Homo sapiens: one gene and its partner. The protein of the gene in region 2 purifies or fractionates together with the protein of the main gene of each other region. This does not show direct contact. Each region holds a gene or a part of one and is shown on either strand. Other genes may lie near its edges.

The links.
Region 1: the proteins of TMIE (region 2) and C2CD5 purify together in Homo sapiens (affinity purification with mass spectrometry; one large-scale study listed by BioGRID and IntAct). This does not show direct contact.

Annotation. Positions count from the first base shown.
Region 1 is NC_000012.12:22,474,961-22,478,726, reverse strand, and holds part of C2CD5 (C2 domain-containing protein 5), read left to right. Parts: intron 1-249; coding exon 250-414; intron 415-3,766. UniProt on the Homo sapiens protein: Required for insulin-stimulated glucose transport and glucose transporter SLC2A4/GLUT4 translocation from intracellular glucose storage vesicle (GSV) to the plasma membrane (PM) in adipocytes.
Region 2 is NC_000003.12:46,707,699-46,711,462, reverse strand, and holds the end of TMIE (transmembrane inner ear expressed protein isoform 1 precursor), read right to left. Parts: intron 2,338-3,764; coding exon 2,188-2,337; intron 1,885-2,187; coding exon 1,775-1,884; 3' UTR 577-1,774; downstream 1-576. UniProt on the Homo sapiens protein: Auxiliary subunit of the mechanotransducer (MET) non-specific cation channel complex located at the tips of stereocilia of cochlear hair cells and that mediates sensory transduction in the auditory system.

The sequences.
Region 1 (3,766 bases), on a different chromosome or scaffold from region 2:
TTATGGGCACACACCACTACACCTGGCTAATTTTTGTATTTTTAGGAGAGACGGGGTTTCACCTTGTTGGCCAGGCTGGTCTCAAACTCCTGACCTCAAGTGATCTGCCCGCCTTGGCCTCCCAAAGTACTGGGATTACAGGTGTGAGCCACTGCACCCAGCTGTTGACCACATTCTTAAATATGAAAACTTAAGGACTGTTATTCTGTAGATATTTTTTCTGATTATTTCCCCATTATTTTTTACAAGTCTGCCACAGGTGTGTATTTAGCAGCTTTACCAACTCCTGGTGGTATTCAGATTGCTGGGAAGACTCCTAATGATGGCTCATATGAACAACACATCTCTCATATGCAGAAGAAGATAAATGACACAATTGCTAAAAACAAAGAGTTATATGAAATCAATCCTCCAGTAAGTAAAACAAACCTACATTGTGAATGTATCAGTTATTGTTTATTAGTATATTTTTAGGTTATCTTATTGAGGACACAAGATTTTTTTTTCACTGTTTAGCTCTCCTTATTACTCATTCTTTCACCTCCCTTTATGTCTTTGCTCAACTGTCTCCTTTTCGGGTAAGCCTACTCTAACGATCCTATTTAAAAATTGTGACTTCATTTTTGCCACTTCCTATGACTTTTCCCTCTTTTATTGTTTTCTATAGCTCTTATCTTTGTGAGTGTGTGTGTGTGTGAGTGTGTGTGTGTGTGTGAGTGTGTGTGTTTTGTTGGTCTTTTGCCTGTTAGTACTGGTAGAATGAAGCTTCATGAGGGCTTTGTTTCTATTGCCTAGAAAAGTTCCTATTGGTGGTAGTCTCTTAGTATTTGTTGAATGATGAAATAAATGGTTTAAAATGTTCTTTGTTAGTAAAAAGAGATTCTTATTGGTGGTAAAAATGTGAAAGAATATAGTTTTTCAGTTACAGTTTCTTTTTTTACAAATTTGCTCCCAGTCATTTCCTTTAATCAGTCTTTTTACCAACTTTGCAATAAGTATCACAATGCTGCCTCCTCTGTGGATGACTGATGGCAAGAGTCTGAATTGAAAGAAAAATGGGTTGGAATTAGAATGAAACTATTTGTTTTTATGAGTCTCTGATAATGAAAGACTTTCACAAAAGGAAAGTATAACATTCACACGTATACATATGTAACAAACCTGCACATTGTGCACATGTACCCTAAAACTTAAAGTATAATTAAAAAAATAAAAAAAGAAAGTATAACATTATTGCTTTTATTATTTTAAACGTCTTATCTAATTTTGGCTGGTCTTCTGGAACAGTGTGTCTGGATTGTTGCGTCACATGTATAGCTTTCATCATATTATTCTAGCATAGTTGTTAATTTGGGAGGAATTTTAAGGTTATGACCTACAGCTGCACTATTCATTATTCACTGTGGTAGCCGCTGGCCACATGTGACTTTTGAGGACTTGTGACTAGTCTGAATTGAAATGTGTAGTAAGTATAAAATATACACTGGATTTTAAAGATTTACTGTGAAAAAGTAGTGTAAAATATGAATATTTTTGTATTGATTTTGTGTCAAAAATTTAATATTTTGGATATACTGAATGAAATAAAATGTTTTATTAAAATGGATTTTATCTGTTTCTTTTTACTTTATTATGTATGTGGCTTGCTTTATATTTCTATTGAACAATACTGACTTAGGGCTTCTTTAAAATGAATGCAAATGTTGATGTGTTAACATATTCATATTTGAAAAATAGACTTTGTAAAAGTTCTCTGTGCACCACTCTACTGACTGCTTATTTTTATAGTACATTATTTTTATTTGGTAGTTATATTTTGATATTTGAACATCTGTTTATAGTATGCCACTTGGGAAAAATGATTTGTAAAGCTTTGTGTTAGGGTTTCATATATTCTTCATTTATTATTTCTAATGATATGAGCTGAACTTTTTTACTTACTTAATAGTGTTTCTCACCTCTGTAAATCCATCCTGACCTCTAACAGGAAGAATGGACTCTTCCTCCATTGTGTACTTGTTGTACCTGTATGTACTTGTATAGAAACTGTTACATATTATTGTACTTAGTTTTTATATATCTGTCTTCCTTTACTATAATGTAAGCCCTTTGGAGACAGGGATGTGTTTAAATAAGACTATGAATTAAGTTACTTCATCCATTCAGTACTTATTGAGCTGCTACTATGTGTCATACAGTTTACATTTGGAAGGAGGGAGTAAATCTATTATGATTTTAAAAATTTTAACATATATGAATTTCATGTGTTGAGGATGACTGTATTTTCACAACAGTACTCATCAGTTTATGCATCTTCTAATATGTCTTTCCTTATTGTAGATACTGACTACATTATAGTCTTTTAGCATAATCTCTCAGCATTTTTTTTGACAGAGTCAGTGTACAAGGTTGATTACCAGGCCACTATACACATTACAGTGTTGTGTTATGTCCACCCTGAATATGTAGATCAGAGTGTTCCTTCTCTTAGGATGATAGCCCTCACTGAAATAAATGCTGCTGTTTAAATTTTTTGTCAATACATTAAAAAATGTTTCTAATACAAAGGTGTAGTACCACTTAAGCTTTATGGAGATAATCAAAGGTATCAAAATAAGATGCACATCTCTCAGAATAACAGTACTAGTGATGAAATTTCAGTATGAATCTAGAACATATTAAATACCAGACAGTTATATTTGTTAAGTCTGTGGCATTGTGAACAAAGGCATAACAGAATTTAAAACTATTGTAAAATTATAAAAAGTAGTGTGGTATCTAGTGGGAATAACGTTGCACTGTGTGTCAAAAGACTGACCTAGACTGGCTCTACACTTGCTAGTTTTCCAAATTTAGGCAGACTACTAATTTACTTCTGAATTACAGCTCTTTTCCATTTTGTAGTTATTATAATGTTAACTTTATAGAGGGCAGATTAATTTGGAGTACAAATAAGATAAATTGATGTGAAAGTGCTCCATAGATCATTACATTATGAAATTGTGCAGTGGTAGTCTTTTATCTAAGGTGCATACTACCAATGAACATTTAAAACTATATATTTTTGAAAAATTTTATGTACAATTTCCTTGTTTATTAAAAAGACAATTCTGTTGCATCAGCAATAGGCTATGGCTTTTGCTTTTGCGTTCACGTATTCATATTCTTCCAGCATTCCTTGTGGCCGACAGACACTTAGAACCCCTAGTGATCTTTGGCTATGTAACAGCAAAAAGCTCACTAAGCCATACAGTATTGCACCATACACTGACCTTAAAAAGATCATTATTGTAAGTACCAATGTTTATTTAGCTTAATAAATTGAATAGCAAATATGTGCATAGTATAAGTATATATGTATTCATACTCATACATTGATCATATTTCACATTTTGCTATATGGAGCTTTGAAAGTGGATAAGAAAATATATAAAAGATTAGAATTCTTTCTAGGAACATAAGTCTTTAAATTTTTAAGGCCTATTAGGACTTTTATAATGCTGAATAGAAAATATGCACACACAGCAGTACTGGATTTCAGAGCTGTAAGGACTGCCAATTCCATACACATTGTAGTGTCCTGTGTGTACACTAGATGTCAGTTTTATCTTGTTATGTCTGTGACAGTTATATATATTTTTCTGATTCGTGTATCATTAAGGCTGCCATATCTGCTATAAAAGTTTAGTTTTAAAGGTTATACTTAAGTACGGACTTCACTGAGTATATTTTACAGGCTTTTTCTCCACAGGTAGGTGTCTACTAA
Region 2 (3,764 bases):
AGAATGGCCTTTTTCACCCCTATGTATGAGAAGCCCATGGGTTGGACCCCAAGGGCAGAGGTCGGTCAACTGCCTCCATCTGGTGTCAGAGTCCTCAGCTTCCATGGCGGGGCCTTTGGCCATGGCTCTGCCCCTCACTGCTCCTAAGACCCCATGTCATGCGCTTTCCTCATCAGCCTGGATCACTCTCCTCCCTGTACAGTGATGATCCAGGTCCAGGTCAGGAGCCAGGTTTGACTCTTCTGTGTCCCCAGCACTGGGCACAGACCATCACAGGTCTATTGAAAATCATGAATGCAGCCTTGTGAACTCAGCACCCAGAGAGCTGGCAGCGTCCCTCCCGAGTCCTGTGCCTGCCTCCGGGATGGGCCCAGGTGACTGCAGCTGCCCCTCAGCCTCTTGGCTCCCATTTCTCCCTCTATCTCATCCTAATTCAGGCTGGCAGAAGAGTCAGGGAGGGGACTTTGGCCTGGCCTGAGCCATCTGTCACTGACTGCTGCATCACCCTCCACATAAATGCCCCAGGAATAGCGCATCCTGAGGGGTCATCTCAGGAGGCCATTTTCTAGGCCTGGCTCTGAGAAGGCAATCAGCTTTATTCACAAATCTCTGCAGGCTGCTTTTCCAGCAGGCTCTCCTGGCTCAGAAACCTCTGGTGTCTCGAGACCTTAGTGTTCAGGCCTAGGTTTCAGAGCCTTAGTCTGTTCGATGCCATCTGGAAGTGCCTCTGTGCATCTTCCCTCCCCCAGGTGCTATTTGGGCCTTTGTCTTCTGGTCAGAGATGCTTCTTTTAGGTGCCCGTAGTGGGAAATGGTAGAAGAGGAAGCTGCAAAGAAGCTGGCACTGTTATGGTCAGCAGGCAGAAGGCCCTGCTGTGATCTTCTAGGGCCCTGGGACCTCCCAGCACAGCTGGGCATAGAAGGGGCCACCAGAACAGCCCGAGGTCCCCCTTGGCTTCTTAAATATACTCTGATTCCCAAGAGGAGCCCAGACTCCAGCTCTCTTTCCGGCACCCTCTAGCCCATTGGCCTTAGCTCTGTGTACCCCTGACCCAGCCCTGCAGCCCCCAGCCCCGAGCTCGAGCCTCGGGGCCTCATGCCGGGCCTGGCAGCAGCCTCAGCTTCATCACAACGTGTGAAATGAGGGTAGCCCATTGCCTTGAGCTTGATGTCTGCTGGGCTGGGGGTTCCATTTCTGAAGCCACCTCTACTTACTCCCTTGAGCTGGATCCCCTGCCAGGCTTGGGGAAGTCTTCTCACCACTGGGGCTCCTCCCTGGCCAGACAGAGTCCCTCCTGCTGCCACAGTGTCCCCCAGTGACCCTCTCTGCCTCCTCATGGCTACTCTGGGTGTGGCCTCACACCCTGACCCATGCACTTCAGCCATTTCGTGCCAGAAAGGGTGGCTGAAGTAACCCCATATCCCATTACTCCTTCACAGCCACTGCCATCCCTGGCAGAAAGGGTGGGAGACAGGCAGGTCTGGGTGGGGAGAGCAGTGTATCTGCAGAGGGACGGTGGCACCAGACCACCTCTGCCGAGACAGTACCCATGTGGATGGGGTGAAAGGAGCCAAGCCTAGGCTGGGGGGCAGGACACCTACGAGATTGTCTGGTTCCTGCCCCTGATGGGCCATGAGGATGTGGCCATGGGCCTCAGCTTCCCTCTCTGACCACAGCCTCTGTGGTCCCCAAATGAGCTCAGAGTCCAACATGCCTGGACCCCGGCCACGGCTTGAGCTCCAGGGCCCGCCAGCCCAAGCTGCCCAGGATGTCTTCATTTCTCTCCTTTCTTCTTCTTGGCCTCATTCTTCTCATCCTCCTCTACTTTGATGGCCACTGTGTCCACACTGTCCTTCTTCTTCTTCTTCTTCTTCTTCTTATCCTCTGTGGGGCAGGGGGAAGAGACCATGTGATAGTGGTGAGACAAGGTCCTGGGGTCTGACTGTCCTGAGGGGAAGAGCCCCAGAACCTCCTACACTCTGCCTTTTTCTTCCTTCTTCCTACTGGAGAATAGGCTCATCGTTCTATTTGCCTCATGCCAACCAATTTCTGTGCTCTGGTCTCCAGGGGCAGGGCTGGGGCCCCTCCCTGAACCTGCTTTGGTTGGAGCAGAGGAACAGGGTGACTCCAGGCAGCAGGACTGAGGAACTGGCTGGCGCAGCAGGGCTCAAGCCAGGGCCAACTCACCTCCTGGGACTTCTGTGAGCTCATTGAGGGGTGGCACAGTCTCCAGCTTGTCTGTGTACATCTTGGCTGCCTTTCGCTGCAGGTACCGGGCTTCGATCTCCTTCCGGGTCCGTGGCACACGACAGTTGAAGACACAGCACAGCGTGATGACTGTAGGGAGGACAGAGCAGGCTTGGCTGGGGCTGGGGTTCAGAGACCCAAGGAATGGCATCCGCCTTCCTTCAGGCCCGCCCCCATCCACCCACATGTGTCTCACCCACCAGACCCTGGCAGGAGGCTCAGCATCTTGACAAAACCCCTGTGGACCCTATGATGACCAAGGTGGCTTTCCTAAGCAGGGCTGACTTCATGCAGCTGCACAGGCCCCCGTGCTTGGAAGGGACCCTGGCTAAATTATGTCACCAGTCCTGGTCCTGAGGGTCTTTCTGACTAGACTGAGAGTCACTGGAGGGTAAGGCAGAGGTCTGCACCATGACTTAAGCCATAGCTTCCTGGGGGCCATCCAGCACTTCCAACCCAGGCCTCCGGGTGTGCAACTTAGCTTCTCCTTCCCACACCACTGAGAGCTAGGCCAAAGTTGCCTCAGTCATGAGAGGACGTGGCTCTGCATGTCCTCCTCAGCCTCCCTGAGGACATCCCTGGGCTCTCCCTGGCTAGGGCGGGAGCCCATGAGAGGGCACAGACCCTGCCCTGAGGCATTCACCTCAGACGGAGTTATTTCAGGAGTGGTTTTCCGGCTGAGGGCAGCTGCACCCACGCCAGTTGGGCCAGGTCATGGAGCTGGCCTGTCTAGGGATGGGTAGGGCAGGTTAGGGCTGCCAGGACCTGGCTGGACTGAGTTTATTTTCCTAAGGCCCCCACAGCCTGACCACCTTGGCCCCAGCCCTAGAGGAGGGGATGGAGCTGGTTCCTATTATAAATCAGATGACCAGACATAACTTCCTGGCAGACTCCTGGGGGCAGAAGGGCCCACGGAGGATTAACCAGGTCTATTTTGGGGAAGATGGATCAGATCTATGTAGCCTGGACTGGAGTACCTTCTGGGGTCATTTTATGCAACCAAGTCAGAACCCCTTCAGACAAATATTGTGGTCCTACTAGGTCTCACCCAGGCTCAGAATAAAAGAAAAAAATCAATGAATGAATGAATGGGATGATCTCAAAGCCTTTGCTGTTGGGAACAGGACTGGACTAGAGTGAATGAATTGGGGAGCCAATAGCATCCAGGCATACACTTGGAGGAGGGTGCTGCACAAGGGCCCCAGCTATAGATCCGACTGTCCAGGGGTGGACCTGAGCAGACAGCAGGCCTTATCCAAGAAGCTGGGTCCTGGATTTCTCCAGAACCTGTGTTCATGCCTGAGACTCGAAGTTGGTACCCAATCCTAACCCTCCCGGCTTAGGCCACCTCTTCTAGCCACCCCACCAGGAACCTCCTTGGGACTATGCCCACTCAGGCTCCATGCAGGCTGGTCCCAGGCCCCGGGAGGCTGGGGCTTCCTAAGGAGCTCAGTGGGCCACTGACGGCAGCCAGAGCCGGGCTCAAACACCACCCCTCACTTCAGGCCTGCCCCGCA